Linked DNA regions of Homo sapiens. The protein of the gene in region 1 interacts with the protein of each later gene in a biochemical or structural test. Each region holds a gene or a part of one and is shown on either strand. Other genes may lie near its edges.

Region 1 (3,500 bases):
TACCTAAATCAATATCTCGAATTCCCATGTACAACTCAAGAACATCATCAATCTTTTCAATTGCCTTTGCTTTGGTTTCAGAAGGCTTTATCAAAAAAGAGAGAAATAAGATATTATACAACAAAATCTCTTGATTGTCAGGGCATACACAAGAGAAAGCCTGATGTGGAGCCGGTTCATAATTGTGTATTTCAGCTAATTTTAATGGAAATAGATCTAGAATGTGCTCTGTAACTAAATACAAATCAATACAGTAAATACTTATTTCTAGTGTCAGCACTAAGTGTTACGGATTCAAAAAAGAAAAGCCAGGAACACAATCCCCAAGTAGCTAACAATCTAGAAGAGGAAACAGATGTGAAAATAAATAACATGTAACAGTTTTTAAAGGATATAAAAGGCACAGAAGCATCACAGGGGAGGAAGCAAATTTATATCTCTAACAGTCATGGAAGACTTTAGAAAGAAGGTGACTTGGCTGAGCACAGTGGCTCACACCTGTAATCCCAGCACTTTGGAAGGCCACGGTGGGAGAGTTGCTTCAGCCTAGGAGTTCAAGACCAGCCCAGGCAACATGGTGAGACTCCATCTCTACAAAAAAAATTAATTAATTAATTAAAATAATTAGCTGGGTGTGGTAGCACATGCTTGTAATCCCAGACACTTGGGAGGCTGAAACAGGAGGATCACTTGAACCTGAGAGGTCTAGACAAGCCTGGGCAACATGGCAAGATTCTATCTCTACTAATTAATTAATTTAATTTAAAAGTAACCAGGTGTGGTGGTATGCACCTTTAGTCCCAGCCACTCAGGAGGCTAAAGTGGGAAGATCACTTGAGCCCAGGATGACGAGGCTGTAGTGAGCCATAATTCTGCCACTGCCCTCCAACCCGGCAACAGGACAAGACCCTGTCTCAGAGAAAAAGAAGGATGTCTTAAGAACTGTGGCGGGGTTTTTTTGTCTTGCTTTGTTTTGTTTTGTTTTGTTTGAGACAGAGTCTCATTCTGTTGCCCAGGCTGAAGTGCAGTGGTGTGATCTCAGCTCACTGCAACCTCTGCCTCCCAAGTAGCTGGGATTACAGGCGTGCGCCACCATGCCCAGCTAATTTTTTGTATTTTTTTAGTAGAGACGGGGTTTCACCATGTTGGCCAGGCTGGTCTCCAATTCCTGGACTCAAGTGATCCGCCCACCTCAGCCTCCTAAAGTGCTGGAATTACAGGCATGAGCCATCACGCCCAGCCAAGAACTGTGTTTTCAATGATGAAGAGGAGATAAGCAGGAGAGGACACTTCAAGTAGGATGCAATAGATAGGCAAAGTCTAAGTAAGGTCACAGAGTCATGTTAGAGGGATGCCAGAAGTCCCATGTAGCTGGAGAACACAGTGACAAATATGACTAGATCTTGAGGAGTCCTGTGTACCATGAAAAGGACTTTGGTCTTTATGGTGCAGGCCAGGGTCTCCAAACGTTTGATGGCTCATCCCAATAGTAAAACTTTTCTGAACAAATACCCTTATTGTGTATTTTTAACTTTATTGTATGTATTGCTTATCAATTACACATGTATTACCATATTAATATATTGTATAGATTATAAAAATACACCAAAAAAGGAAATTTTATAAGAATGAGATGATAAAATAATACTTTTTAAATCATTTTTGTGTTATGTATTAATGGTACCAAAACATTTTTGTTCTTCCCGAAATGATTACTAAACATTTCAGTAAAAATATTATTTTAAATTTTTGGTTTAATATTTGGTAAATTCTGCTCAGTTTATTTCAATACTTGGCTTTAAATGGCATCATAGCTGAAAATGGAATTGCCCAAAGATGTTAACTACTCAACTATACATGCAAATGTAGAATTCATTATTTAGATTATAAGAATTTCATGTTACTTTCAATACTGTTATAAATATATGTTGTTTTGTAGTCTCAAATTTTATTAAAATCATGCATTTTATAGCAAATAAAAATCTATTTCCTTGAAGATATTAATACAACTTTCTCACATTTTTATTTACAAGAACTAAACCTTAAAAACAATAACAGACAATATATTGCTCTTGCCTTCATTACAATGTATCTTGAATTGTCTGTATAAAGCAACAGGCTATGCAAATTAACAGGTATTAACCTTTATATCTATCCAGGCACGTTTTAAGTTACGGTGACAAGTGTCAGTACTCCTCATACCCAAATGGCCACCAATATTTTACCATTCTAATATTTCCTATTTGCTACGGAACAGATCTGGATCTATCACCTCTTCTCCATCCACATTCTGTTTGCCAGTGTTTAGTCCTCATCTTTTCTGATTTGCAGAGGTTTCCTATTTTGTCTCCCTGCCTTTGGTCTTCACCCTCTCAAATCCAAGCTGCTCAACAACCCATACCCTGGAACCAAGGGATTTTTCTAAAACACAAAACTGATTGTGTTACTCCCCTCATAATTCTTAAATGGCTCCCTCATTATCCACAAGGCCCTTCATATCCTAACCCCAGCCTATGCCTCTAGCCTCATCACCCCTACCTAACCAGTACTTCCAGCACCCCACACTCCAATCTCATGAACAGCTTACAGGTCCCCAAAACCCATTATTGTTCCATGCCTAGAACACTCTTCTTCCCCATTTTGAACTCACTCACTAATTTCTTCCGGAGAGAAACACTTCCTGACCCTTTTTTTTTTTTTTTTTTTGAGATGGAGTCTCACTCTGTCACCCAGGCTGGAGTGCAATGGCATAATCTCGGCTCGCTGCAACCTCCGCCTCCTGGGCTCAAGTGATTCTCCTGCCTCAGCCTCCCAAGTAGCTGGGATTACAGGTGCCCAGCACCATGCCCAGCTAATTTTTATGTTTTTAGTAGAGATGGGGTTTCATCACATTGGCCAGGCTAGTCTCGAACTCCTGACCTCAGGTAACCCACCCACATCAGTCTTCCAAAGTTCTGGGATTACAGGCGTGAGCTACTGCACCCAGCCTTCTGACCTCCTTTCTTTCCCCAATCCCTGTCAATGGCTGATCAGCCCCTTCTTTGTGACACTGTGTATCCTGCACCTGCTTCCATTAACCCTATCCCACTGGGTTGTAATAGCTTCTTTTCATGCTTCTCTCCTTTTAGAAGAGAAACAGGGTTTTTATTCTTCTTTGTATCACCAGCACTTAGACTGTGCCTGTCTCAGCAAGCACATATTGAATAAAGTATGAGGTTATGCAAGTGGAGAATTGATATGGTTTGGCTCTGTGTGCCCACCCAAATCCCATCTTGAATTGCAATCCCCACGTGTCAAGGGAGGGACCTGGTGGGAGGTGATTGCATCATGAGGTGGTTTCCCCCAGGCTGTTCTCGTGATAGTGAGGGAGTTCTCACAAGATCTCATGGTTTCAAAAGCGACAGTTTCTCCTGCACACTCACTCTCTCCTGCCACCATGTAAGACGTGCCTTGCTTCCCCTTCACCTTCTGCCATGACTGTAAGTTTCTTGAGGTCTCCC
Region 2 (3,500 bases), on another chromosome or scaffold:
TATTTTTGAGACTGAGTCTTACCCCGTTGCTCAGAATGGAATGCAGTGGTGCGATCTCAGCTCACTGTGACCTCCACCTCCCAGGTTCAAGCGATTCTCCTGCCTCAGCCTCCTGAGTAGCTGGGATTACAGGCACTCACTACCGTGCTCGGCTAATTTTTGTATTTTTAGTATAGACGGGGTTTCACCATGTTGGCCAGGCTGGTCTTGAACTCCTGACCTCAGGTGATCTGCCTGCCTCGGCCTCCCAAAGTGCTGGGATTACAGGCATGAGCTACCACACCCAGCCAGAACCTGCTTTCTAAAAGCACCCTAAACCTCTTTGGTTGTGAATTTATATATTCTCTGCCTTCCAAGGGCTGGTCTTTGAGGATATTGCTTGGAACTAAGTTCATACAGTAGATATTTTATTTAAAAAAAAAAAAAACAGAAAAGAGACCTCCAATAAAAGGTTTCTTTTTTGTCTGATTTTTTGCTTTTTTTTAATTTTGAAATATAATACTTGTCATATAAACTTAGCTCCAAGCAGTATGCTCAAAGACCAGCCCTTCTTGGAATGCAAATAATATATAAATTCATAGCCAGAGACGTTTAGAGGTGTTTAAAGAAAACCAGGTTCTTACAAGTGTCTTTCTAAAATAACCTTTATCTCTTTTTTACAACAATCAACCAGAGTGTTTAAGACTCAAACCGTTCACTGGTGAAGGAAGGCATTCCCTGAGACTCTAGGTCTGAGAAGAGGGATGGGTGGTGGAGAGGGGGAGGGAGTTTATTCGCCCTGCAGTTGTGCCTGCACCACTTACTTTCAAGGGCATATTTGGATCTGTTACTTGTCAAAGTGGCTATCAGAATCACCTTGGACTTCTTGAAGGGTGAGTTCACAACCGAGAAAGCACATATTCAAAATTGTTGAAGTAATAAGTAAATCTTCTAGAACCTTACCCTCAGTGATAACATTCCACTTCTAGCTCTTAAATACCCACTTCTGTTTCCTGGATGAGATACTCAGTGCAGGAAGGAACCTGGGTTACATTTGTCAGAGCCCCAAATCTGAGATGAACTGTATCAAGTTCTGCCTTTGGGCTGAGGCTGGTTACTGGAGGTCATCCTCTGTTTCTCTCTTTTTTTTTTTTTTTTTTTTTAAAAAAAAGAGAGACAGGGTCTTGCTCTGTTGCCCAGGCTAGAGTGCAGCGGTGTGATTCCAGTCCACTGCAGCCTTGACCTCCTGGGCTCAAGCGAATCTCCCAAGTAGCTGGAAGGTGGAACTAGAGGCATGCACCACCACACCCGGCTAATTTTTGTGTTTTTCTTATAGAGACGGAGTCTCATGTTGCCTGGGCTGGTCTCGAACTTCTGGGCTCACACCATCATCCCACCACGCCCAGCCTATTTTGTTTTTTTAAATACAATATCTTTTGTATGAACTTAGCTCCAAGCATATGCTCAGAAACCAGCCCTTCTTGGAGTGCAGTTAATATACGAGTTCATAGCCAGAAAGATTTAGAGGTGTTTCAGACAAACCAGGTTCTTACAGGTGTCTTTCTGAAATAACCATTTTCTCCTTTTTACAACAAACCAGAGTGTTTGTAAGACTGAAACAATGATCTTGGATAATGTCTTTGAAGGCCCTCACCCAGGGATTTACAGACTCCTCTGGGGAGGAGGGAAAATGTAATGCGAAGAGCCAGAGTGCAACCAATCTGGCTTTGATCCTCTTTGGTCCACACTGGCTGTGTCACCTTGGGCAAGGAATAGAGCCTCTGAGTCTCCCTTTCTTATTTCTGCTGCCTTAGGATTAGTTAGTGGGGGTTCAGTGAGACGATGTAATAAAGTGTGGGTGTATAGTACAGTCTCTGGTGTAAGTAAGTGCTCTATAGTAATGTCAGCTACTGAGGCTGGGTGTGGTGGCTCATGCTGGTAATCCCAGCACTTTGGGGAGCCGAGGTGGGAGGATTGCTTGAGGCCAGGAGTTCAAGACCAGCCCAGTCAACATGGTGAAACCTTGTCTCTACCAAAAATAAAAAAAATTAGCCAGGCATGGTGGCGTATGCTTGTAGTCCTAGCTACTCGGGAGGCTGAGGTGGGAGGATCAGTTGAGCCCAGGAGGTGGAGGCTGCAGTGAGCTGAGATTGCACGACTGCACTCCAGCCTGGGCAAAAGAGCAAGACCCCATCTCAAAAAAAAAATTTTTTTTTTTAATGTTAGCTACTGTGATGAAGTCTCTTTCTGAAAACTGGTTCTGTACAGGTTGCCGTAATTCTTTCTACTTTTTGTGTGTAAACAAAGTCATTGTTTCTTTCAGGGACTGATTCATGTAGGAATAGAGAGGGGCTGGGGAAACCAGATGGGGCAGGTGGGCGGCAGAGTAAGGGATTTCCTTTATGCCCCAAAACACATTTTTTCCCCTTGAATTAATAATGTGTGTGGATCATAAATAGAAAAATTCAGAGAGGCACAAATCTAAAAATTATGTATATGTGATGTATAAGAAAAAGAGAGCAGCTGTGGAGGGGCTTGGTGGCTGATAGGCGTTAGCTTGCATGTGAATACAGATATTAACAAGTAGAAATCTCATCCGTATACACAGTGCCTTTGCATCATGCATTCCCCGCCAAGTCATGTCGGTTCCATAGTTTCTGGTAAACTCTGGGCTGAGAAGAGACACGGGCTGGTAGCCCCTTCTGTTTTTGGGGGCCAAGATAATGGGGAAAGGATTGCATTTGCAGTGATTTTCTTATACGTCGTCTTCAAGTCACAGCTACTTCTTTGCCTGAGGATGTAAGAATGGAGGATTGGAAAGATGGTTGCTCTAGATGACTCTTCATGCATCCATCCAACCATCCAAGTGTGCAGCTACAAAATTTCTTGAACATCTGCTATTTGCCGGTCACTGTTTTAGGTACTGAGGATACACTGTGAACAAGACAGACACAGTCCCTGCCTTCGTTGACTTCTGTTCTGCTTAGGACAAATCCAAGACAGCCCCTATTCTGTGCATACAGACCACCTTTGGCTGCACCATAGGCTGGTGCAGTTCTGCACAGTGTCATTGGTTTTATAGTTATCACAAGACCTGAATTGTCTGAAATGACATTCAGCACCTGAACTCTTTGACACTTTGGCACCTCCATAAATCTAGAAATTTCTCTGAGTTGTGGTGCATAGGAAACCTTGAGGGACAACCCAGGAGTAACTGTGAGAAAAAGGGTGTCCCAGGGAGTAAATAGATCTCACAGCTCAGAACTGTAGGGACAGGAAGGTGGAAGGGGTAGGAGCTGGAACAAGTCTCCAAGCAGTGAGCTTCCCCAAAGTGCACCAGCGTTTTCAAGCTGTGCCTGCGTAGACGGGAGCAGGTCGAACAGAAATATAGTCAAAACTAGCTCCCGTCAAGGACAGACAGGATGTCATTTTGCACCACAGCAAGTAGGGGAAAGCAGCTCTCAAGCCTAACTGTGAAACGCCCCCACAAACCACCTCCTCCTCCCACTCCCTCACTGCTG
Region 3 (3,500 bases), on another chromosome or scaffold:
AGAGTTGAACGCCACTGAACTGTACACTTAAAAATGGTTAAAATGGTAAATTTGGTGTTATATATGTTTTGTCACAATTTTTTTAAAAGGAGCCAGCATGTTCATTGCCATATGCTGAAACCAGATTCAACCCTGATGTTCACCTAAAAAGAGGGAGTAGGGAAGTGCCTAATACTCCATCTTTACATTGTCATGAAACCTAAGTGAGATTAGGACATGGCATCATCAGCTGGGCTTCTTAAAATGTTTCCCTTTCCACCAGGGCCGTCTTAGAGAGACCGTATATTCCTGTTGGGCTGAGAGCACTTTAGTGACTTTTGAGTGTGTGCTAAGCCCTATTTTCCTTCCTCTGGAAGGATGAAATTGTTCAGCTTGTTGGAACTAGGTGTCTTAGGAACAGAGAGCTCTGTGTTCAGGCCCAGTAATCATCCTCTGGCATATTTTTTGTTTTCCAGGACAGCTACTAAAGCTTATCCACAGTCTCCAAAGACAACGAAACCTCCCTACCCAGGGTCTCCTGTGAAGTACCGCTTACCTGCCCTTTCTGGCCAAGACATGCCCAAGAGGAAAGCGGAGAAAGAGAAGAGCAACAAGGAAAGGGAAGGTACCTTGGCTCAGCAGGCTGCTGGCCCGCAAGGAGAGGAAGCCCTAGAGAAGCATGTAGTGGACAAGCATGCCAGCGAGAAGCATGCTGCTGCCGCAGGAGGGAAAGCCGAAAACAGCGCAGGTAGATGCTGCCACCGTGCCTTGGCTTTCCCAAGACGGTTCTCCTCAGACCCAATCCACGTGCCATTCTCTCATGTTTTGGGGAGGGAAAGGGATTTTTCTCTGGGGACAAGTGCATCCCCTCGTGCAGCTTTCTTGGGTTTGCACGTTGCTCCTGAGTTCTTTCCTTCAGTCTTCTGAGGGTCCCCTGGAGGAAATCTAGAGGCTGACTCCACTCATGGCTGTGGAAGCTCACGGGGATGCTGAGTAAAACAGGCCTGCATCTGCACCTCACGCAAAAGAAGATCTTCCTTTAGACTTTCAGGCTTCTATGATGCAGTGAGTTCACCCAGATGGTGGCTGCTGTGGCACTTGCTAGTGACCTTGTCTTTCCTCCTCATGTTTCTATTGTCTTCCACTGTAAAATGCGTCCAGGGTTCCAGCCAGCCCATGACAGCTTCTCTTGCTTGGTGGTCGATTGTGCTAGTCTGGACGGCATTTCCCATCACCACACTGGGTTGGATTTTTTTTCACTTCCAACTGGCAGCTGCTGTGTGAGTGGAATCATTATATTCGTTTCCCTTGATCTTTTCCTCTTGATGCCTCTCCTCTGGTGCAGCCTTGGGGAAGCCCACAGCAGGCACCACTGATGCAGGAGAGGCTGCGAAGATCTTGGCTGAAAAGAGAAGACAGGCCCGGCTGCAGAAGGAACAGGAGGAGCAAGAACGACTGGAGAAGGAAGAACAAGATAGGTATGCTAGTGCTCAGAATTTCGGTGTGATCTCATGTAACTGTTGTGTTGGAAAGAGCAGCTTGCCTTTCTTTTTACAGCGTTGGTATTGATAAAACTTGAACAGAAGTATGGGAACCTAGAATGTCTGAACTACATGGAAGGTGTTCAGGAGACTGAGTCTTATATTAGATGTAATTATTAATAACAATGGAACTTTGTTCTTTTCGGAGGACCTGGAAACTCATAGCTCTTGGATCTAAATGGCACAGGCATCTTCCCATTCTCCTCTTGGACTTTGGGGCCAGGCAGGCCTCCTAGAGCTATCAGGGAAGTCTGAACTTTGTTTAAAAAATGAGATTCTCCCTGGGAAAACAAGAGGTTCAAGATTCTGGTTTTGGTCTTGATTCTGATTTCCAAATTGTTTCCTCCGTCAAATTATCCTAACTCACACCCCAAAGTGAGAGACAGAGGGGAGGGTTGAGCAGTGTCCCCTAGGCATAGGGTTGTGTGTAGGGGCAACCGCATAGTCTAAGAACAGTGAGGTATGGGGAGTCCCATCTGGGAGCAAGACAAAAGACATCATTGCAGTGGTCCCTACACCTTGAAGAGCATCAGAATCATCCGGGGAATGCAGTAAAAACACATGGACTCAGCCCTGTTCTGTTTTAGTAGCTTGCCAGGGTTTGAGAACCACTGTGATGTTAGTACCAGGGTACTTTGTCACAATACAGACAGACCTTCCTTTTCTGATCTTTTTATTTAGAGAGGAAAGCATGTTGAAGGACAAGGTCGATTTTATCATTAAATTGATAAAGGAAGCCGTTAGGCTCATCACAGAGTACAATCCAATACTGTTTAGAGAATTATCATGACAGGAAGCAGGCAATGCTGTAGCACTTCAAGGCCAGCACCGAATTTAGAGTAATAAATAATAGAATATTATTGATCCTTTAGTGACCTTGGTAAGTCTTTGTGGTCTCTGATTACAGGTTTGCTGATCTATTTTTTAAAAGGGACAGTGGGGTAGGTCTCGACAGTCCCTTCTTGAAATTTGGGACTTCTTTGATTGTTTTCCTGTTTCCAACATTTTGGTCAATACAGACGTGTTTTGTTTGTTTGTTTGTTTGTTTTGTCGAGTGGCATGTTTGGGCTGGTTTGGGTGGGCCTTAAGGTGTGTGAAGGGAGGTCACAAGAGATAAAGATGAATCACAGGACCTCAGATGACAGGCCTTGATAATTGCAGGCCATGGAGATACCATGTAGGCTCTGAGCTGGTGAGTAACATGATCGTAGTCGTGTGCTAAAGAAGGTGATGTTCTTTACTTTCCAGCTACCACCGTCTGTATCTCCCATTTTCTTCACAGCCCAGCTCCTGAAAGACTTGATTGAACATTCTGTCTTTATTTTCTCAACTCACATTCAGTCTTCAAACCTCACACCTACCACTCCTCCTCGTTGCCTAACTACTAATCAGTTTCTTGGTTGGCTTTGGCCTTGTCAAGCTTGCCCTTGCTTCTCTGGCCTCTCCTTCATAGCCTCCTCTGTCTGCCCCTCATCCCCTTAAATGTTGCCTGGGCTTTCAGCCCTTAGTCCTGGACCAGCTTCTCTCCCAACAAGCTCTCCCGAACAGCACTGCTCCCGCCTGTTCTGCCAGTGTCCCTGCCATCCTGCCAGTTTCCTATGGCGTCAAAAGATTTAGGGCCCACATTTTACACAACAGCTTTCTGTTGAGCCTTTGTTGTGCTAAACCAGCTCTGCTCTCATCTCACTTCCCACCTTCATTTTCCCTTTGTCTTGTTTTATTGTCCGTTTCTGAAGCTAACTGCAGCTTGCTTTCTAAACCTTCCATACTTTCTGGAACAAGGGAGGCACTAATAACACATGTGTACTGATGACTCCTAAAACTATGCCTGTGGCCCAAGCTCTGTCTAGGGCTGCATTGTCCACTATCAGACCCTCTAGGCACATGTGGCCACCAAAATATACATTCAGTAAAATTCATTTCCCCAGCCACACCCGCCACATTTCCGTGCTCAAGAGCTGCATCTGAGTAGATGTGGAT
Region 4 (3,500 bases), on another chromosome or scaffold:
TCCCAAACCCATCATCCCATTTCTCTGTCCCCTTGATCTCTGAGAGGTAAAGCATGACTGTAACCATTTTTCAGATGGAAAGACTGAGTCAGGGACAGGAAGTGATTGCCTGGACCCCACAGGAGAGCTGGGATTGGGGCCAGTGCCCAGGCCCCTGCTCCCTTCCCTTGCCTGCACCCTCTATCTTCAGGGCCAGGCTGGACTCTGACTGATCCAAACACTTGGCCACGGAAACCTTTTGCCTGCCTGCCTGTGGCTGTCCCCAGGTGTCCCTGGCTATCTCCTTTATTTGGATACATTGTGTTCCCAAGCTGGTGAGCAAGCTGGATGTCAATAAACAAGCTGATTTCCTCTTGGGCTTTTGTCATTCCCCAGGGACATGTAGTTTCTGCGGCTGCCTCTCCTCACCCTCAGAGCATCATGAATGTTAAGCATCTCCACTCCTCGCCACTACCCCTCCCTCACCCGCAGGTCAGGTGGAAGGCAGGCTGTAAACTAAAGCTCCAGTGCACAGGGGGAGCTTTCCATGGTACTCGCGGACACCTCTGCCTCCAGATGGGGAGTGTTGGGGTGGAATGGCAAAGGCTTCACCTGCTTGATTGTCAAGCCTCTCTTTCCTCCAAAGGCCCAGAAGCTGAGACTTTCTTCTGTCTCTGCCCTTCCCAGGAATCTTACTTCTCCACAGTGAAGATTATCTACACCGTGGGCCATAGCATCTCTATTGTAGCCCTCTTCGTGGCCATCACCATCCTGGTTGCTCTCAGGTTTGTCATCCTCATCACCAGCTCAAGAACCTTCCTTGGCTCCTTATTTCCCAGAGGGTCAAGTCTGCTTCCTTGCCTACATAGCCATGAACTTCCCAGATCTAGGCGCCATACCCATGTCTAACTTTCCCTTCCCTTTTCCCCACCATGTAGACCCATCTCTTCAAACACCAGAACTCATTCCTACCTCTGCCCCTTTGCTCACGTGGTGCTCATTCTATTTGCTTGGAATTCCTCATTGTTCTCAGTGTATTTATAACTGAGAAAGCCCAGCTCCTATCTGCATCTGACAGTCCTCTGCCTCCTGCCCAGAGCCCCTCTTGACTGTTATAACTCTCTGACCACTGTCCCCTTTAAGACCCCACCCCCTCCTCCAGCCTTCGAAGTCTGAGCACTGCATCTGGCCTGTGCTGTTCTTGGTCTCATGGGGATGAGTGTCTCTGATCATCCAGGGGGCTCCCATGGGCAGTACCTGCCGTTTCTGCCTCTGTTCCCTGAGACTGTGAGCACCCTCGAGGCAGGGACCAGATATTCCTCTCTTTCCACACTTACCCTGAGCACAGGAATGGTTGCTCAGCTGTCCTGCAAGGGTTAAACTGAAGCCTCAAGTTCAGCTCAATTCAATTCAGTTTGATTGCATCCAGTTTGATTCGATTCACCTCCTGCCCTGTTCAGCCCAGTTGCAGCACACCAGAATCCCCTCTCCCTGCTTGCTTCTTGTTCCTCATTTCTCCCATTACCCCCAGGAGGCTCCACTGCCCCCGGAACTACGTCCACACCCAGCTGTTCACCACTTTTATCCTCAAGGCGGGAGCTGTGTTCCTGAAGGATGCTGCCCTTTTCCACAGCGACGACACTGACCACTGCAGCTTCTCCACTGTAATGGCCATGGGTGAAGGGGCTGGGCAGGTGGGGGAGAGAGGAGGTAGGATTACAGACCCAGATGTGCCTGCGTCAGGCTTCCCTGCCCTGTGGGCTGACCCTGGGGCTCCCGCATGGCCAATTACAGAACAGGAAAATGCTCCTTTCCCATGTCACCCCCTAAGTCCTCACGCCTTTCCTGGACTGTGGTGTCGATCCATGTCATTTCCCATATTGCATGCTCTACTCCGCGTTCTGTAGTCCAACCTAGACCACGTTTCACTATGCACAGCCTTTTCCTTTCCTTTCACCCCTCCCTGAGCACTCATAGGTCTGTGCTGGGGGTGTGTACGCAAGGGGCTGGGAGGAGCTGGGTCCCTCCTTCAGGAAGAGCCCATGGGACAGAATGCACACAGATTAGGGGACTCCCAAGTGGAGGAAGCTGAGAGCTAGGAGAGAACGAGAGGGGGCTTCAGGGAGGAGAGGACCCTGGAGCTGTATTGGCAGCAACAATAGGGAGATGGGGAAGGAGAACATTTCAAGAGGAGAGACCAGGGTGAACAAACTCTCAAAGACAGGAGGACCTGGGCCATGTCCAAGAAACTGGGAAGGCACCATGGGAGAGATGGGGTGGAGACAATAAGAGGCAATTGAAATTAAAGGGAAGTTGGGCAGAATGTGGAGACCCAGCACCTGCTAGATCCTCTGCAAGTGTGCTGGAAATGAACAGCGAAATCAGGGAGCAAACTAACACATGACCTCAATTAACTGATGAAAGAATTAATCATACTTCATACTGAGCACTTATTTTGTGCCAGGCATTGCACTAAGTGCTTTACATATGTAGTTGTCCCTTGAACAATGTGGGTTTAGTGGTGTTGACCCCCCTTTCAGCTGAGAATTCAAGTATAACTTTTGTGTCCCCCAAACTTAACTATTGATTGCCTACTGTTGACCTGAAGCCTTACCAATAACATAAATGACCGATTAACACATATTTGTCTGTTACACGTGTTATATACTGTATTCTTACAATAAAGTAAGCTAGAGAAAAAATTTTAAGAAAATCATAGAGAAAATAAAAATTGGCTGTTTTTAAATGGAAGTGGATCATCATGAAGGTCTTCATCCTCATCGTCTTTATGTTGAGTAGCCTGAGGGGGAGGAGGAAGAGAAGTTGATCTTGCTGTCTTAGGGGTGACAGAGATGGAAGAAAATCTATGTGTAAATGGACTTCAGCAGTTCACACCTTTGTTGTTCAAGAGTCAGCTGGCATTATCTCTTGAATTTTTAAAACAGCTTGAAGAAGAAAGCATCACTTTAATCCCATTTTGTAGAGGAGAGACAGTTGGCAAGGTCACCCAGTGGCACACGGGTGGGGCTGGGATCAAACCTGGGCCAACTGAACTCAGAGGTGGTCCTGCTCCCCTGCCGGCAGGTGATCAAGTCATGCAGTGAGTGAGTGAATGCACGGGTGCCTGTGTGTGTTTTTTGCAAGACAGAGCTGTGGCTGAATAAGTCACAGCTCTAGGGATTGACTTCAGCTCAGGAAGGATGGGGGTAAGTGAAAATAGAAGCAAGTCTTAGGCAGTTTCCATTTAATCCTTATGATGAGGACTTGATCTAGGTATTGGAGGTTTTTCCTTTTACAGATGAAAAGCTAAGGTGTGAGGAGATTTGCACAGGAAATAGATAGTAAATTAGAAGCCAGGCTGTCTAGATACCAAATCTGTGCTCTTAACCCTCACTGTATATCACCACATCCCCTCTTGGGTGGCCCAAGGAGCTGCAGGTCCCAGCCTAACATGGAGGGGCCTGGAGGTTCTGTATCTGAGTAGGGTAGAGGAGACTGGGATGGGGCTCCAGTGGGTGTCC
Region 5 (3,500 bases), on another chromosome or scaffold:
CAGTCAGCTTCTGGAGGCTGGAGGAGAGCCGTTCACCCCCCTGGTCAGCTTCTGGGGGCTGGAGGAAAACTGCCCCCCTGGTCAGCTTCTGGGGGCTGGCCTCATTCCTTGGCTCCCGGCTCCTGCCCTGCCTCCATTGTCACATCGCTGTCTTTCTCCTCCTCTTTATTTTCTCCTTTTAGAGACAGGGTCTCACTTTGTTGCCCAGGTGGAGTGCGGTGGCACAATCATAGCTCACTACAGCCTTGAACTCCTGGCTCAAGCCATCCTCCTGCCTCAGCCTCTTGAGTAGCTGGGACCCCAGGCATGTGCCACCATGCCCAGCTAATTTTTTCTGTTTTTTTTTTTTGGTAGAGATGGGGTCTCACTATGTTGCCCAGGCTGATCTTGAACTCTTAGCCTCAAGTGATCCTCCTGCCTTAGCTTCTCAAAGGGTTGGGATTGCAGGCACGAGCCACCGCGCCTAGCTTCTGTCTTCTTCTGCCATGTTCAAATTTCCAGGATAATCTCCTTGTCCTGGGAGCCTTAGTTTACTCACATCTGCAGATCCGTATTGCCGTATGGCTTTCACAGTCCCAGGGATTAGGGCCTGGATATCTTTGGGGATCGCTATTCAGCCTACAGCAGGCTCCTCACTTGTCTTCGAAATGACTTCACTTTTCCCATTGTGTGCGAGGAGCACCCGTCTCATGCCTCTTCTCTGGGATGGGCAGGGTTTGTCCAGGGAAGGTCCCTGTGGTTTCACTTCCCTGCCCTTGGGGAGAGGCGGGAGCCATCCTGGAAACAGGTGTCCTGGGAAGGAAGACAAGCCTTGCTCAGGATGCAAGCCCCAGTCATGAGAGGTTGTGGGAGGTCACTCATGCTGTGCCTTTTTAGGAGGTGGGGTCGTTACCAGTTCCAAACTGGATACTCCACACAGTGCTCATGCAGTTTTACCTGTGGTTTTGGGGGCCACCGTTGCAGAAGTTGCCTAGATTCTTCCATGAAGGAGCCTCTTGCCTCGGGCTCCGGGCAAGGAACTCTTGTGTTAGAAGTTCCCTTCTTCTGTGTCTTTTAAGGTCTGGACTTCAGTGAAAGAGAAAAGAAACATCTAGTTTGTTCTTTCTGTTTTTCTTTTCTTTCTGCTTTTCCATGCACTTGCTGTCCCCAACTCTGTAATCATGGTGATACCCGATACGCATACACACTCTACTCACATATCTTTTCCTACATCTTTGTGTCCCTTAGCAGTGATCTTAGTTGTCCTTCCAGCATGCCTGAAAAAGGGCTGAGTCTGTGGATTGAAGCGTCCAGTTGTAGGCATTCTCCTGCCCTGCCTGGCCGCAGCCCCCAGAGGCGGGATCCTAAGTGGTCTGTTTTCTCAGGCATTTACTGCTGTTGAAGCTGCTCCTTTAAAGCTTAAGACATTCTTTTTTTATTTCTCCCAAAGGCCGTGGGGAGGTTTAGCTCTCCTCTGTCCCACCAGCCTCCCTGTCCCTCTATGTGCCATCATAATCACTGCATTTTTGGTGAAATCGACAGTCCTTGCTCTTGTGTGACTGTAAGCATTGCTCATTACTGCGCCAAGGAGTGCCCTGAGCACAGGTCCTCTCGCACAGCCCTGTGGATTAGCATCTTCTAGTCACCCACCTATCAAAATGGTTTGTTTTTCATTGCATCCAGGACACTAGCCCCATCCCCACCCCTTTGGGATTGGAGCCTTCTCCCTGCTCTCGTTTGCCCTGGTCTCCAGGAGACCTGCTGCGCCGCTGTCACCTGCATTTCCCGCTGCTGTCCTCCATCTGTGGGGCTCCCTGTGCACTGGGTCCTGCTCTTCTCTCTCTGCTTGGCTCACTCCTCGTTTTGCTGAAGTCCTACTCTTTTGATACCTAAGAAACATCACATAGGTATTTTTTTTGGTCCTTGATTTAGAAAACATCTTTATTTTACTCTCCAATTACCTTTTAACTTAGCTGGGTATAAAATTTTAGACAATGATTTTTTCGGAATTTTGAAAATGTTGCTTCATTGCATTTGGTTTCTGTGCTGTTGAGGTCTGACGCCATTCTGATTTCAGTTCTTCTGTGTGTGATCTCTCCTGCCTCAAGCTCATAGAAGCGGCTCTTTTCCCTCAGTGTTCTGAGAAGCCCGATAATGGCATCTGCTTCCGTTTATTGTGCTGGGCACTCCGTGGGCCCTTTCAGTCTGAGGATAGAAGTTTTTAAATTTCAAAGATAATTTTCTTTCAGTTTTGCTGTTTTCTCTTTCTGGAACTTTTATTTGGAGGTTGGACCTCCTAGGTTGATCCTCTAATTCTCTTTTTTCTCATCTTGTTGATCTCTTTGATGTTTGTTCAATTTTTTTTTTAAGAGACGGAGTCTCACTCTTTTGCCCAGGCTGGAGTGCAGTGGTGCAGTCATAGCTCGCTGCAGCCCCAAACTCCTGGGCTCAAGCGATCCCCCTGCCTCAACCTCCTGAGTAGCTGGGAACACAAGCATGCACCCCCACAACTGGCAATTTTTACTTTTCATTTTATTTTTTCATAGTCTCGTCATGTTGCCCCTTTGCTGTTTCTAAGAAGTCAGTCACTCTGGTAGCTGCGTTGCTCCTTTATGTTATATGATGAGGTGCTTTCAAGCTCCTCCTGGGATTTTTGGCTTCCAGCAGTTTGATTGTGATGTTCTTAGGAGGGTTTGCTTTGTATTTGTCCTGCTCAGGGTTTGTTGAACTTCTTGGATATGTAATTTTTCACCATCTTCAAACTGCTATTAAGTTTCGTGCATTTTAAAATTTCAGTTACAGTAGTTTTTATTTCTAGAATTTTCACTTATTTTTTATGGTTGCCATTTCTCTGCTCTGTCATTTGTTTATTGTGATCATACTGTCATTAAATCTTTGAACACATACTAGCGGCTTTAATGTTCTTTTCTGCTAATTTCAACACCTGCATTACCTCAGGATCAATTTCTATTGGCTTCTTCCAACTATGGGCCACATCTTCCTGTTTCTTTGAACATCTAGTGTTATTTGATGGTGTACTGGACATTGTAGATGGTAACTGTAGTGACTTCTTTTTTCTGAAGAGTGTTGATTTTTGTTCTGGAAGTTAATTTGTCTGGACTCAAATGAAAATCTCTGCTGCAGTCTCTGCTTGGTGCTGTTGACCTTCCGGCTGCCTCCTTCTGCTGGACTCTGGGGTCTCTCTGTGCATGGATGGCTCACCACTGGCCAGGACCTAGGCAGAATTTACTAACAGATCTCACGACTGCCTCTTCCCCAGTGACCTCCTTTCTGAGATATGCCCCTCACTGTTCAGCCACCCAGCCCTCCCCAAGCCCTATCTTGGACTCTTCAAGCTGGGAGGATCACAACTTCTACCTGTGCTCTAGCCATTTTTAGAAACACTTGTTTTAGTTGGTGCAGCTCTCTCCTTTCAGGGGACAACTCCCCTCCACTTTCTGCCTGCTTTTCATAGCTCTCCAGGACCTCCCAGAGTTGGTTTTTGTGTCTTGTGTCTGGTT
Region 6 (3,500 bases), on another chromosome or scaffold:
TTTACCTATGCCCCAGGGCCTTTGTTCTGCCCAAGGCCTTGTTTTCTGCCTTAGGACTCATGACCATAACCAGAGGCTACCATGCTATACTGTGGCTTTGACACTAAAAGAAGGGGAAAGCCTTCTCTTTTAGCTTAGTATTTAAGGGAATACTGAAAACCATAGGCTGCCTAGTCGGCGTTGTTCCCCACCCCACCCCCCAGTCTCTGTTTCCAGGGGTTCTCAGGAATGACATGCCTGTGAGCGTGTTCCTCTAGGGAGAGCACAGACCTCAGTCACAGCTGGGGTCTTCTCTTGTTTTGTTTTATTTTTAATTTTAAGTGTTTCCTAAGTAAGGAACCAGTTAAAAAAAGGAACAGATCAGAGAAGCCTCTGTGAAATAGAAAGAAAACGATAATTAATGAGCACCTACTATGTGCCGGGAACTGTGCAGGGCTTTTAAATACTGTATCACACTTGATCCTACCCCCGGGGTAGGTATGGATGAGAAAATACACTATACACTTGGGGGTTATGAAGCTGGTCAGAGAATTGAACCCAGGTCTGTCTGACACCCCCTCTCCCTCTAGTCTCTGTAGTCAGTGCAGTTTCCTTTACAGACGTCATCCTCCCGGACTTTACAGGACACCTTCTCACCTGTCCCTTAGAAAGCCACAGTGTAGTGCATGTAGCAGGAAGGTGTGGGGCTCAGACCAGGGTCCACGTGAAATGTGGACATGTGTGCGTTTGCCTCCTACATGCATGGATAACTTCAGGAGCTTCACTGGAAAGGGTTGGTGTTTGGCTTCCGGGCTGAGAACTTTATTAGAAAGGCAAAAAGAGGGAAAATTAAAACTATTTTAATATTCTGGGCAGATAAAGTCCAGTGAGCAGTCGCAGCGCTACACAGGACAAAGGCAGAAGGAACTTTCAGTCCACAGGCCACGCGGCTTGAGCCATGTCAGGCACGTCTAGCGTCCCAGGCGTTCCATCCATGAATGTCAAAAAATGTACAAATAATTTGTTTTATTCCCAAGTTGTCTATTTTTTATATCTCATCAATGACTCATTTGCACACCTATTGTAATGACAGGATTTTGGAATGGCGGAGGAATTTGCTACTAAGGCCCTGGAGCTGAAACCGAAATCTTATGAAGCTTACTATGCGAGAGCAAGGGCAAAACGCAGCAGCAGGTGAGGAGAGAGAGAGAGGGTGAAAGCAAGAGGTCTCTTTTCTGAAAATTTGGCCAAGGCAGCGTCGGCCACCCTGGGGCATATGTACCCAAATACATCTCTGTCCTTGAGAACTGTCAGGGCCAAGCTTTGGGGATGGCTCCCATAGCACAGCCCTCAGCTCAAGATCAGCAAATCTGCTGGGCTGTGGAGGCCACGAATGTTTCACTTCGGGAGAAAAACACTTTTTCACTGGAGAATGGCAGCTTCTTCCAAGAAGCCTCTGCCGTATCTCAGGCATTTTTCAACCCCCAGAGCAGCTAGCACAAAGAGACAACGGCGACTTAAAGAAATCACTTAAGCAGAGCACCCCACCCCCGCTTTAGAGGGAAAGTAGGATGGTTCACTTAACATCACAGGTTCCTCTTCCTTCTCCCATAGGCGTTTGAGGAATCCCGGATTAGTTAGTCTTCCCTCTGGGGCTCTCCTCAAGTCTGGTGGCATCAGACCCCCTTCCACCTAAACCATCACCCACCACACACACACAGAGTCAAGAGGTCCTTGCTGCCAGGATGGAGAGGACCCTCTAAGAGAACACCATTCCACATTCCTTGTGCCCATCTGCTTTAGTTTGGCCACTGGGCAGAAAAGCTCCCAGAATAACCTAGAACCTGCCATCAGTGATCTTTGTGTAACTTGTCACTGTCTCTTATGCCTCCTGCCCTCCTCCTCCCCAGCTGCATGGGAAAGAACTGCTTCAGGTTCACTGCTATGGCCAGGGGCACATGGTCCCGAAAATCACACCCAGCTTGAGGCTAGTGATGGTGGTGGCAGTGATCGCACTCTTACCTAGCTGGGGCAACGAAGTCCTCACAGAAATCTGACTGAAATTCTCCTTCCCTCTGGGTAGTTCCTTTTTCACAAGGTCAGTTGCCCCTGTCAGGTGATATTAGTAGAGAAGATGGGAATGTCTCTGACAGTTCATTTCTTCATTTGTAAATTAGAGTCTCCTTGGAGTCAGCTCAGCTCCAGCCCCGAGTGACCTAGTCAGCAAGCCTAATGCCTGCCCCACTTTGATAGAGCAAATGGAGACACAGCAATTCTGAGAGATGAGGGTTAGAAAGGGCAGAGGACAGGGTTCTTGCCTAGAGTAGAACAGGCCTGAAATTTGGAGCTAAAATATTGAGAATATAAAGAAAAATTTCTGCTGGATCAGCAAGATTTTTAAATATGTAGTTTTTTTTGTTCCTAAGCTACTTGACAGTGACCCTGTAAATGACAACCCCACCCAACTCTCATACTGCCTGGTGTGTGTTTGGGCACCAAAACAACTTCCCGAAGGGCCTGGCTGGACTGACAAAATGGGGCATTTCTCCACTATTCCCAGAGAGGCCAGAAGGAAGATGGAGGCCGAATGGGTTAGGGAATCATTCGGACTCTTCCAGAATGAGTCTTCCTGTTTCCTTCCCTATAAATCCAACTAAACCGAAATACCCCAGACTCCCACAGACGCCACCACAGCTCTCTGAGATAGTGACCATGTTCTCAGCTCTTGGTGATTTCTCTGGATTCAGAATAACTCCAGTTCCTGTGTTCACATTTTGTCAAGCAGACAGTTCGCAGCAGCCTTAGAGGACCTGAACGAGGCCATCAAGCTGTGTCCCAACAACCGTGAGATCCAGAGACTTCTGCTGAGAGTGGAAGAAGAGTGTAGACAGATGCAGCAGCCACAGCAGCCACCGCCGCCACCGCAGCCTCAGCAGCAGTTGCCGGAAGAAGCAGAACCTGAGCCACAGCATGAAGACATATACTCTGTACAGGATATATTCGAGGAGGAGTACCTGGAACAGGATGTTGAAAATGTTTCCATTGGCCTCCAGACAGAGGCCCGGCCCAGCCAGGGGCTCCCGGTCATCCAGAGCCCACCCTCCTCTCCCCCGCATCGGGACTCAGCCTACATCTCCAGCTCACCTCTTGGCTCTCATCAGGTTTTTGACTTCCGGTCCAGTAGTTCTGTAGGCTCTCCCACTAGACAGACCTATCAGTCCACCTCACCTGCCCTTTCTCCAACTCATCAGAACTCACATTACAGGCCTAGCCCACCACACACTTCCCCGGCTCATCAGGGAGGATCTTACCGTTTCAGCCCCCCTCCTGTGGGAGGACAGGGCAAAGAATACCCAAGCCCTCCCCCTTCCCCTCTCCGGAGAGGCCCTCAGTATCGGGCCAGCCCTCCAGCTGAAAGTATGAGTGTCTATAGATCCCAGTCTGGTTCACCCGTGCGCTATCAGCAGGAAACAAGCGTCAGTCAGCTTCCTGGCAGACCCAAATCTCCATTATCCAAAATG
Region 7 (4,265 bases), on another chromosome or scaffold:
ATGTAGGCTTGTCTAGATAATTTTCTAAATGTCTTTCCAAAATTCTGCATATACTTCTAAGTTTGGATAGTTAGAAAAATAAAGAAGCCTAAATACAGGCCATCTTAAATTTTACTTGTTCGCTATCACTAGCATTGAAATCAGCAGTTAAAAACGTCACAATATTTTAACTACTGTGGTTTCAGCTGTTTGTGTGTGTGTGTGTGGGGGGGAAGGGTGTCGTCAACTCATGCCGGTTAAAGAACGTGACATTTCTGCATCTTATAAAATTGGACTAGAGAAAATGGGTTACCATAGGAACTGGCAAAACCTATTGACATTACTGGAATGCTTATTTAAAAAGTTTCTTTTACTTAATGGACCTATTTAAGAATGATAGAGAAAACGCCTATAACGGTGGCAGAGAGTTAGCATCTACACTCTAGGAATATTTGTCTTTTAAAGTGAAGCCTCATTAGGCAAACTGTATTTTACTAACCGTTGCATAGTAGCCTGTGTATGGTTTTTGAAGAAAATGAGTTTTGAAAAATCATGTCTACAATTTGTCACTCATTTTAAATCCCATTGTTGCCCTTCGGTTCTTATTAATATATAAGAATATCAAACACAAAATGACTTCTCTAAAATAGGTACTTTAGAGGAGTTGGCCCAAAACCTGAAACAGAGCCCTTTAAAATGGTACTTGGGGCAGAACCTGTCTCAGGATCACCACAACCAGCAGCTGGCAGGTGACAGCCTCAACGCCTGACTTCCCAGGACCCGCTCATCACCCGGGGAAGATCCGACAGCACTAGCCCTCCTGCCTCATCATCGCTGCGCTTCTGGCAGGCGGAGCCCCGTTCTCGTCCACGGCAGTCCACACCTCCGTCTCTGCAGGCGTACGCGGGTCTCGGGAATCACCTCCGGAGCCCACTCAGCAGCGGGGAGGGCGAGGGCGAAAGCGAGAGCCAGGAAAGCCCGGGCTCTCGCTGTAAGCCCCGCGCTCAGTGGTGTCCCCCTCCCCTCGGTGGTGGGGCCGCGGATACCTCCTCAGCCGCCTCAGCTGTCGGAGTTCAACTGGTGGGCGGCCCGTCCCGCCGTGGCCGCCACCGCCGGGTCCCCTCAGAGGCCTCACAAAGCCATGCTCCAGCCGCCCGCACCTGATTGACCGACCCCGGGCTCTGGCTCTGCCTCGCGCCGCCACCGCCTCCGCCGCCGCGCACGCGCACTTCGCGCGCCTCTGTTCCCGGACGGCCCCCAGAGCGGGAACGCCAGGCTGCGAGCTGCTGGCACCTGTCTGCCTGCCAGACAGACCCTGGGCTCCGGCCTCGTGCCGGCACGCGCACGCGCACGCGCCTCGCGCGCCTGCCGTCGGCCCTGGGGGCGGGACCGCGCGGCAGCGAGCGGGCGGGGGGCTCGTGGCGCGCGCGCCCCGCACCCGAGGGCTGCGGAGAGATATTTTGGGTGGCAGGAGGCCCCTCGTCATTTCCGCCGGGCAGCTAGTCGTGCTCGGGGCTTCACTCCCGCGCGTGAGGCGAGCGGGCAAGTTGGCTGAGGGCGTGCGGCAGAGGCTGCTTCCCTCGGCGACGCGACCCCTCAGCAACTCAAGCTATGAACTGAAGCTCCCTAGGGACGGAGACCGGAGCGGAGCGGCGGAGGCAGCAGCAGCAGCAGCAGCAGCAGCAGCAGCAGCAGCCGCCGCCGCCGCCGCCTTAGCGGGAACTGAGCAGACCCGGCGCGGAGCCACGACTCCTGCACGTTTACCTCCCTGTCGCCGTTCCTGCCGGCGGTTGGCTAAAAGACGTTACAGCCGCGAGACCCGACACACAAAAGCCGCTTTCTCCGCGCCGCCCGCCCAGGGAGGCTGCGGCCAGCAAGGGACCCCACCTGAGAGCAGCTCGGGCTGCTGAGTTCGTTTTGTGTCTGAGCTCTGCGCTCTGCACGGAACCGACCCCGTACCCATGGCTCTGATAATGGAACCGGTGAGCAAATGGTCTCCGAGTCAAGTAGTGGACTGGATGAAAGGTAATGCCCGCTGCGGGGAGGGTGAGGCGGCACTGGGGCGCGGGGCACCAGTGCGAGGTTAGGAGGGGGCGCCCGCCGCGCCAGAGCCCGCCACCGCGGCTTCCACTGGCGGATCGTCGTACGCGTCGGGGCGGGGGTCCTCCAGGACTGGCAGGGGCCTGGGGTCCCCGGTCTCCTTTTGTCTCCAGCTAGAGGGGCGCGGAGCGGCCAGAGAGCTAGAGGGCAGCGGGCGCCACCCCGTTGGAGGCAGGAAGTCGGGAGGCAGAATACCGGCGCATCTTGCGTACTCCCCTCTCCCCTTACTGCCCCCGGGCCAGGAGGACGTGGCGACCCTTATCTCCCAGCTCAGGGTGGACTCCCCCAGGACCTGCTCCCCTGGTCGCCCTTTCCTGGCCCCTTTGTTCCTGGGAAAGCTGACGCCCCCTCGGCGGCCGCCCTTGCCAGGTGCCTTCCCCAGCGCCAACTCTCCCAAGCAACTTTTAGCCCACATAATGGGGTCAGGACGCGGCCGCCCCCATTCGGAGCCTGGCATCCCCCCACACCCAGATTTGGCTGAGGATGCCCAGGGTGGGGGTATGTGCTACTTTGAGGGTGAGGACATCATGCTTCCCCTGGGACAGCATCCTTGCTGCTGTCTCTGGGCTGCCTCCAGCGCATCCCCTCGCATCCTTTGCCTTCTCTGCTTTCTCCCTTTCAAGCCAGTCGAGGTTTTGGACCTCACGGCTTTTTATTAAGGGCTCAACGCCAGATGTAAGGTGATGCGCATTCAGGTACCTTCACATTTCTTCCATCTTGAAGGTTCCCCCTTTTGTCCCTGGCGATTTATAATAACCACAGTTATAGACACTCACCCTCCTAATCGCAAACGTGAGCTTTTTTTCTGATCCCTGGGCTTTCCTGTCTCACTACCTCCCTCTGTTGTCTGAGTTAAGGGGCTTGTAGAGGACTCCCCCACCCACCAACCCCTTGGATCCTCAGGCCCAACTCTTCCCTAAGATTTTGGGAATTGAAGAGGGGATGGATGGGATGGAATGGAATAAAGGATGCGTGGCCACACTTGGGAAATGTTAGCGCTTTGCTCGAGGTCATACCTGAGCAAACTCTAGGTAGATCAGTCAGGGACCAAAGGCTTATTATCGCTGAAAATGCCCGTTCCTACGATGAAGGAGCCCCTTCTTGGGCTTACTTAACAGTCAGACTTTCTAAGCTCCAGATAATTTAGAACGAAAGGTGAGGTGATTGGGAGGGATTGAGAGTGACAGGGAGAAACTGATTTTTTTTGCTCATTCTTTTCCCCAGCCTTTTTGGCCGCTTGCTTATTCTTGTGGATTTTTCTTTATTTTGCTTTCCTTTTATTCCCTTACTTGCCCCTTTATTCCTCATTTACTTTGCTTTTCTTTTCTAATATGTGGAAACTGCTTTGTAACTGCTAAGCAGTACAAATGTGAGTGAATTGAATTAAACCTAATACATTATTTATCGACTGCACCCCTGTGTGCAGTGCATTGTGCTAAGGTGCCATGGGGGATATAAAGATGACTAAGACAAAGTCCTGCAGTGGCTCATCTTTGCTGCTGCTTTTTCTCTTTATGTATTTGCTATTGAAATTCCAATATCTTAGATTCCCACCAATTATCCTCACTCTCCACCTTCTCCGTTTCTCAGTGATGGAAGAAAGAGCCAGAGTATATACAGGAAGCAACAATGCTTAAAACCCCGTTCTTTGAATTTGTCTAAAAGGTTACTTTAGTTTGAGTCTGTTGCTGAAATATTAAAAGACAAGCTATCTTGGCTCCATGGGAGTCTGATTACCTTCATAGACTACCTTTCGCAAATTCCCATGATGCCTGTAGTGAGTGCTGCATACTCAGTCTCCACCTCCCACCCTCCCAGTTATATTCTTGCAGTTTCCCCTCTCTCCATAGTTTAGGTCCACTGAAGCAAGTAGAATATATGATGCACCTATTCTGACACACATTATTAGTTGTCCAGTACACCAGTCCTTTAAAAATCTTTCCAGCCTAAAATGTGGCTTCTTTGAAGTTAGGTTAACATTGTTAGCTGTGATTTGAAAATTTTTTTTAAATGTAAGTCGAATACCTTGTTTTCATACCTGTTGGTGACGCATTTTAGAGCTATTTGAAAAGATCAATTGGGTAGCCAAGATAGTTTGTGTATCGTGTATACATATGACTGGAAGAGAATGAATGATATAATTACCTGTATATTTCAAATCCCAGACTACTTACTGCTGAAATTTC

Evidence for each region.
Region 2: the proteins of GIPC2 (region 1) and ARHGAP17 interact in a test that uses a peptide from one of them, tested with the Homo sapiens proteins (one large-scale study listed by IntAct).
Region 3: the proteins of GIPC2 (region 1) and MAP7D2 interact in a test that uses a peptide from one of them, tested with the Homo sapiens proteins (one large-scale study listed by IntAct).
Region 4: the proteins of GIPC2 (region 1) and GHRHR interact in a test that uses a peptide from one of them, tested with the Homo sapiens proteins (one large-scale study listed by IntAct).
Region 5: the proteins of GIPC2 (region 1) and RGS12 interact in a test that uses a peptide from one of them, tested with the Homo sapiens proteins (one large-scale study listed by IntAct).
Region 6: the proteins of GIPC2 (region 1) and TANC2 interact in a test that uses a peptide from one of them, tested with the Homo sapiens proteins (one large-scale study listed by IntAct).
Region 7: the proteins of GIPC2 (region 1) and CNKSR2 interact in a test that uses a peptide from one of them, tested with the Homo sapiens proteins (one large-scale study listed by IntAct).

Annotation. Positions count from the first base shown.
Region 1 is NC_000001.11:78,122,466-78,125,965, reverse strand, and holds part of GIPC2 (PDZ domain-containing protein GIPC2), read right to left. Parts: intron 86-3,500; coding exon 4-85; intron 1-3.
Region 2 is NC_000016.10:24,921,370-24,924,869, reverse strand, and holds part of ARHGAP17 (rho GTPase-activating protein 17), read left to right. Parts: intron 1-3,500. UniProt on the Homo sapiens protein: Rho GTPase-activating protein involved in the maintenance of tight junction by regulating the activity of CDC42, thereby playing a central role in apical polarity of epithelial cells.
Region 3 is NC_000023.11:20,022,908-20,026,407, reverse strand, and holds part of MAP7D2 (MAP7 domain-containing protein 2), read left to right. Parts: intron 1-455; coding exon 456-727; intron 728-1,324; coding exon 1,325-1,457; intron 1,458-3,500. UniProt on the Homo sapiens protein: Microtubule-stabilizing protein that plays a role in the control of cell motility and neurite outgrowth via direct binding to the microtubule. Acts as a critical cofactor for kinesin transport.
Region 4 is NC_000007.14:30,970,453-30,973,952, forward strand, and holds part of GHRHR (growth hormone-releasing hormone receptor precursor), read left to right. Parts: intron 1-666; coding exon 667-764; intron 765-1,510; coding exon 1,511-1,643; intron 1,644-3,500.
Region 5 is NC_000004.12:3,296,021-3,299,520, forward strand, and holds part of RGS12 (regulator of G-protein signaling 12), read left to right. Parts: intron 1-3,500. UniProt on the Homo sapiens protein: Regulates G protein-coupled receptor signaling cascades. Inhibits signal transduction by increasing the GTPase activity of G protein alpha subunits, thereby driving them into their inactive GDP-bound form.
Region 6 is NC_000017.11:63,417,235-63,420,734, forward strand, and holds part of TANC2 (protein TANC2), read left to right. Parts: intron 1-1,072; coding exon 1,073-1,173; intron 1,174-2,761; coding exon of another isoform or gene 2,762-2,764; coding exon 2,765-3,500. UniProt on the Homo sapiens protein: Scaffolding protein in the dendritic spines which acts as immobile postsynaptic posts able to recruit KIF1A-driven dense core vesicles to dendritic spines.
Region 7 is NC_000023.11:21,372,958-21,377,222, forward strand, and holds the start of CNKSR2 (connector enhancer of kinase suppressor of ras 2), read left to right. Parts: upstream 1-1,465; 5' UTR 1,466-1,940; coding exon 1,941-2,004; intron 2,005-4,265. Other genes in the region: uncharacterized protein LOC105373146, read right to left, coding at 1,026-1,465.